2 separate regions of the Homo sapiens genome follow, and region 2 is linked to region 1. The links come from fine-mapping of genetic effects on gene expression. A gene starts in region 1. The other region holds a variant in brackets. All regions are shown on one strand. Distances are between the middles of the regions.

Region 1 (2,810 bases):
CTATTAATGGGGAATTCTGAGAGCTCTAGGGTAGGAGGCCTCATGCAAGTCTTCATGAACCAGAAATTCCTAATAAAGGAGACGGGATGCTTAACTCAGAGTCCACCATCATCCTTGACTGGAGCACATTCTGGGTGGATGCAGGGGTGACCCGGGGAAGGTGGCTGTTCAACATTCCTTCTCGGACTTGAAGCAATGCCACCGCTTCCTTAGTCTTGGACAGGCACTGTCTGGCAGGGATGACCTGCAGCAGCTCTTTTGTGGCCTGGGCCAGGACCAGCTTCCCCCAGTGCCTCATCCTGTGCTGTATGCCCAGGGATGTTCAATCACTGGGAAGTGGCTTAAAAGGCCCTTGAGGCTCCTGGATGCCAGAGCTTGTCTGGTCAGTGCTGCCCAGTGCTCCTGTCCCTCCCAGAACCCTGCCAGGTGCTAACAACACCCTCCTCCTGGGGTGGCTGGAGCAGCACTGAGGCTCTGAATAAAGGCAAGACAGTGGGTGTTCCCGAGAGATATGTGAGACCCTGAAACGTAAACCAAGCTCGGTGAGGATGAAGTGGAAGGGATAAGTGGCCCATGTCACTTTTGGGGTCAGAGAAGAAACTTGAATCACATCCTTCACCTGAGGCCCCACCTACTTCTTTCCAGAAAACTTAGCTGCGCTTGAAACTGTAGGTCTATGCCACATTCATTTGAATGAATTTTAGATCTTTGTTAAGAGCCGATTTTTCATTAGAATTGAGCAGCTGGGCACAGTACTCCAGCAGAAGGGTAAAGGGAAGGGAGGGGACCAGCATTGCAGCCCTTTTAACGGCAGCTGTGACTGCCCCAGGCCTGCTCCTGATCAGAGACTGCAGGCTGTGGGGTGTCTTCATACACACAAGCACTTTCAGATCTCCATGGGGCCTGACCTAGTGGGGCATCACCCCAGTGAAGGGCCTCAGTGTGGGGACTGCTGGCTGTCCCTTTCCTGGCTTGACTGCCCCTGCTGACTGTGCTCTTGGCACTCTCTTATGGTCCCAGAGGGGGCATCTGTCCCTCCACCATCAACCTGATACTTTTGCTGGCTCCAAATTTTGCAGTCTATTTTCAGATGTAAAATGAGAGGCGGGGGGCGGGGGTTAATTAGGAATTGGCCTTGGGTACTAACAGGGTCACTGCCATGCTAGTCTGAATAAATCCTTTATCACCACTGGCGTACAGCCAACAGTTCCCCAGTCCTCTGATCTATCTGGAACCATGCCCAGCAGGGACTGTGCCCCCACTCCCAAGCCACATCGATGCTAGGGCAGTCTGCTCAGCCCTGAGTCCTCCGGGGAGCAGGGGGGCAGAGCTGAGCGGCTGCCCGGAGCTTGGCGGGAGGAGGGGACAGGGGAGAGGGAGGTGGGGAGATCCGGCTAGAGGGGAGGCTCTGACATCTCCTTCCTTCCTGGTTCCTGCAGCAGCTGCTGCCACTGCTCAGCGCGGTGAGGAGGGAGCCGGTGACTCGGAGACGGTGACTCAGAGGCAGAGCGGCGCAAGGGCCAAGGAGTACTGGCGTCCATGGACCCTGGGGTAAGGGGGCTGCGTGGCAGCAGCTGACATTCCTGAGAAGAGCTTCCTCCCACCTGAAGCTGGTGGGTCTGCTCCTGAATAGAGGTGGAGAGGGGGCACCCACCTGGCTCACCTAGACCCTTCACCTGCCTACCGATAGAGCCTCCCCCTCTACCCACAAGCAGTGAGGGGCCAGGATCCCCACAGGGCCGGGAGAAGGGCCCAGAGATACCTGAACACCGGAAGAGTTTGAGAACTTTCAATGGCTGAATGCAGGAGTTTCCTCCCAGGTCAGCCTCTTGCAGCAAGGGTCCCTCTGCCCCAACCTCCTGGGCACCCGTTCCTGCCACATCCCTGTCCCCTCTGGGCCTCAGTTCCTCAGGTGCTTGCTAGCTCCATTAGAAGATCTGGGCTGCTTCCCCCACCTCAAACCAGCCTCGCCCCTCCAGTCCCCTCCCCCGTCTCACACATGCAGAGCCTCATGCATTATTGATCTCCCGGTGGAGCCAGGATGGCCAGGGCCAGTGCCAAGGGTGCCTGTGGGCACTGCTGCAGGACCTGTGCAGACCTGGGCATGTCCTGGGCCCCCTCTTCTCTCATGAAGTATCTCCTTTAGCCCAATGTCCTGCCCTCTCTGGGTGGGTGGCACTTCTCAGAGCCCCAAGGACTGTGAGGGTAGACAGGGGATGGTGAGGCTTTAGGGGGTACTGAGGGTCCAAAAAGGGCATCCTAGGGGCATGTTTGGTGGGAGGAGACATGGGAAAATGGGGGCTATCTCAGGCCTCAGTTTCTCCAAGCACTAGATAATATGGAGATTAATTGGTGGGAGGCTGGGGAGTTTTCTGCAAGATCATGGCAGAGAAGTCTCTGAGCTACGGTGGCAGGGTGGAGGGGTCCTGAAGGCAGAGGCAGCTGGATTGAGGAGGTCTCGCTTGTCCAGTCTCTGAACCCCTCTGTCTCTTCTTGGAGCCTCTTCTGTCACTCCCTTGCTTCACCTCTGAGCACTCCCAGGGAAGCCTCTAAAGAAAGCACTGAATGTTTCTTGGAGCCCCAGAGTATGTGCCCAAGGCGGGGCTGGGCATATGTCTTGTGGTTTTCCCTGGGCACCTGCCCGTCTGCTGTGTGCTAGTTCACTCTCAGGGCAGTGTCCATATCAGGTGAAAATGGGTGGGGTCGGGACAGAGGGGCAGACTTGGGAGAGGCTTGGCAGGTGAGCAGAGGGTATGTTGGGGAGCCCTTATCTCAGAGGGTGTGGGAGGGGCTGGAGGTGGGGAAGGTGA
Region 2 (2,998 bases), 40 kb before region 1:
CACTGGGAGTAGTGCAATGAACGAAACCCCCTGCCTCCATGAAGCTTACATTCTAGTGAGGATGTTAGCTTTGGGGGAAGAGGCTGTACCAAGCACATGCCTGGAACAGGGAAGGAGCTTAAAAATATCTGTGGAATGAGTGACTAAATGCCCAGAATGAATCAGAGGTGACACTGCAAATGTTCAGCTGGTGGGTAAAAAAGAATGACTTGCTTAACCCATTCCCTGCCATGCTCCATCCCATCCTCCTTTCCTGCCCAGAGGGCCCTCCTGCTGTGGTCCAAGGGGCAGCTGGCTGTGCAGAGAGCAGGCAGACACCAGGCTCCAGGACTGCCAACCTGGCACCGCTGCTTGGCGCTGGGCGCCCTCTAAAACAACAAACTTCGTGTCTCTAATTTGGCACTTCCTGTTTATCTTTATATTATCTCCTGTCCTTGAAGCTCACAGGCTCAATCAAGGATAATGCAAAGGGCCAGAACTTTGGGGACTCAGAGATGGAAGAGGCAAGGGTGCCCTCTCTGCCAGGGTTCTAGGCTGCGCCCACAGGCACTGAGCAGAGGTCTGAAGTCCAATGCTCCAGGCACTACAGGAGGCTGAGTCTCCTCTGCACCTACACAACAGGAAGTCCCACATGCTGGGTTCTAGTTGTCCCAGGTTCATAGATCAATGCCACTTTTTCCCCTCTACGAATCTTGGTTTTCTGAACACCACAGAATAGGAAGGATTCAGCAGGAGAATCCCCTAGCTTCACTGCTGTCTCTTTCTCATCCGCACATGGCTTGGAATCACTTCTTAATGAATGACTTAACTCCTTTCACAGCCTTTGAGAAATGGATCTAACTCTGGGTGCTTTACCTTTTTTTTTTTTTTTTTTTTTTGAGACAAAGTCTCGCTCTGTGGCCCAGGCTGGAGTGCAGTGTTGCGATCTCAGTTCACTGCAACCTTCACTTCCCAGGTTCAAACGATTCTCGTGCCTCAGCCTCCCAAGTAGCTTGGACTACAGG[C/T]GTGTGCCACCACACCCAATTTTTTTTTTTTTTTTTTTGAGACTTAGTCTTGCTCTGTCACCCAGCCTGGAGGGCAGTGGCACGATCTCAGTTCATTGCAACCTCTGCCTCCCAGGTTCAAGCAATTCTTCTGCCTCAGCCTCCCAAGTTGCTGGGATTATAGGCACCCGCCACCAGACCTGGCTAATTTTTGTATTTCATAGAGATGGAGTTTCACCACGTTGGCCAGGCTGGTCTCGAACTCCTGACCTCCGGTGATCCACTCATCTTGGCCTCTCAAACAGCTGGGATTACAGGCATGAGCCACCACCATGCCAGGCTTTTTTTTTTTTTTTCTGAGACAGGGTCTCATTCTGTCTCCCAGGCTGGAATGCAGTGGTGTGATCATAGCTCACTGCAGCCTTGACCTCCTGGGCTCAGGTGATCCTCCTACCTCAGCCTCCCAAGTAGCTGGGACTACAGGCACCCTCACCATGCCCAACTAATTTTTGTACTTTTTGTAGAAATGGGGTCTGGCTATGTTGCCCAAGCTGGTCTTGAATCCCTGGGCTTAAGCAGTCTGCCCACTTTGGCCTCCTAAAGTGCCAGGATTATAGGTGTGAGCCACCGTGGCTGGCTGCCTCAGGTTTTGTTTTTTTTTCCAGACGGAGTCTCACTCTGTCTGAGTGAGACCCAGGCTGGAGTGCAGTGGCATGATCTTGGCTCACTGCAACCTCTGCCTCCTGGGTTCAAGCGATTCTTGTGCCTCAGCTTCCCAAGTAGCTGGGACTACAGGCGCGCACCGCCATGCCTGGCTAATTTTTGTATTTTTGGTAGAGATGGGTTTTCACCATGTTGGCCAGGCTGGTCTCGAACTCCTGACCTCAAGTGATCCACCCACCTCGGCTTCCCAAAGTGCTGGGATTACAGGCATAAGCCACTGCGCCTGGCCTTCAGGTTCTTGAATCCATACTCTAGGCACTTGAAAGATGAAGCTTCCTCTAGACATTGAAGTCCGCCTGGGATCAGCTGACTCTTGGAACCAAGTGAATGTGTCCACTATGCTGGGCATCAAGATGGCTGCCCTGTGGGTGGTAGGATCAGGGCAGATTCCAGACAGGCCCCCACCCCGGCCAGAGGGGCAGCCTCTGCCACCCCCAGAGCTCCAGGTAATAACCTACGGGCCACACCAGGCTCGCCAGCACCTGAGCCACCGGCAGCAGATAATGACGGGGGAGCTGGGCAGTCAGAGCCAACCCCTCAATCAGGAAGCAAATTAAAAAGGGGAGGAATCTCCCAGACAGACCACAACAATGAGACCGGCCCCCTTTCCAGGGCACTGCCCTCCTTCCCCCTACCCGCCTGATTCCGCCTGCCAGGTCCTGATACCCAGCCTCCTCTCTAATTCCCCTCTCGTGGGATCCTGCTGGAGGTTCTCTGGATGACCCTGGCTGCGGGTTGGTGGCCGTGCCCAGCTGACCAGGACACAGGATACTGGGCCTCTTATGGAGCCTTGTCTGCCACCCCTGACCTTGGATTCCTGACAGGGCACTGGGCACAGTGTCAGGGTGAAAGAGGAAGGGTCAGGGCATGTTTTTGATGCAGTGTCTTGAAGGCCATGAGGCCAACTCTCAGTGATGTGACAAAAGGGATTTATTTATTTATTTATTTATTTATTTATTTTAACTTTTTTTTTTTTTTTGTAGAGTCGGAGTCTTACTATGTTGCCCAGGCTGGTTTGCAACTCCTGGCCTCAAGTAATCCTCCCGCCTCCGCCTCCCAAAGTGCTGGGGTTACAGGCATGGGCCATTGCACCCAGCCGACAAGGGGATTTATAGAGAACTCACCAACCTCTGACCTGGCAGCCCCTTGTCCTCTGCAAAGGGTGTAAATTCAATCCAGTGCAACATATATTTATTGCACACTCAGTACTAGTTGCTGTATAAGATGCTGGGGGAGATTCAAAGATGAACAGAAATTTCCAGTCCCTCAAGGAACTCACGATCTTACACATG

Direction of the effects. Alleles are on the strand shown, and positions count from the first base shown. SD is a standard deviation of normalised expression in the study named.
As copies of C replace T in region 2, the expression in fibroblasts of the gene that starts at base 1,423 in region 1 goes down (small effect, 0.14 SD a copy in GTEx).

Evidence for each region. PIP is the estimated chance that this variant, and not a neighbour inherited with it, causes the effect.
Region 2: its variant is the best candidate, but not a certain one, in a credible set for the expression of OSBPL7 in fibroblasts (GTEx, PIP 0.71).

What each region holds. Positions count from the first base shown.
Region 1 is chr17:47,820,407-47,823,216 of GRCh38, reverse strand. OSBPL7 (oxysterol binding protein like 7) reads left to right here and starts at 1,423. Exons shown (of 23, transcript NM_145798.3): 1 at 1,423-1,551. RefSeq lists an enhancer at 965-1,134 and a silencer at 1,245-1,460.
Region 2 is chr17:47,860,388-47,863,385 of GRCh38, reverse strand. It overlaps a transcript of SP6 not described here. Among named protein-coding and RNA genes, the nearest start is that of SP6, 11 kb to the right of the region's middle. The variant C/T (reference allele first, on the strand shown) is at 1,005.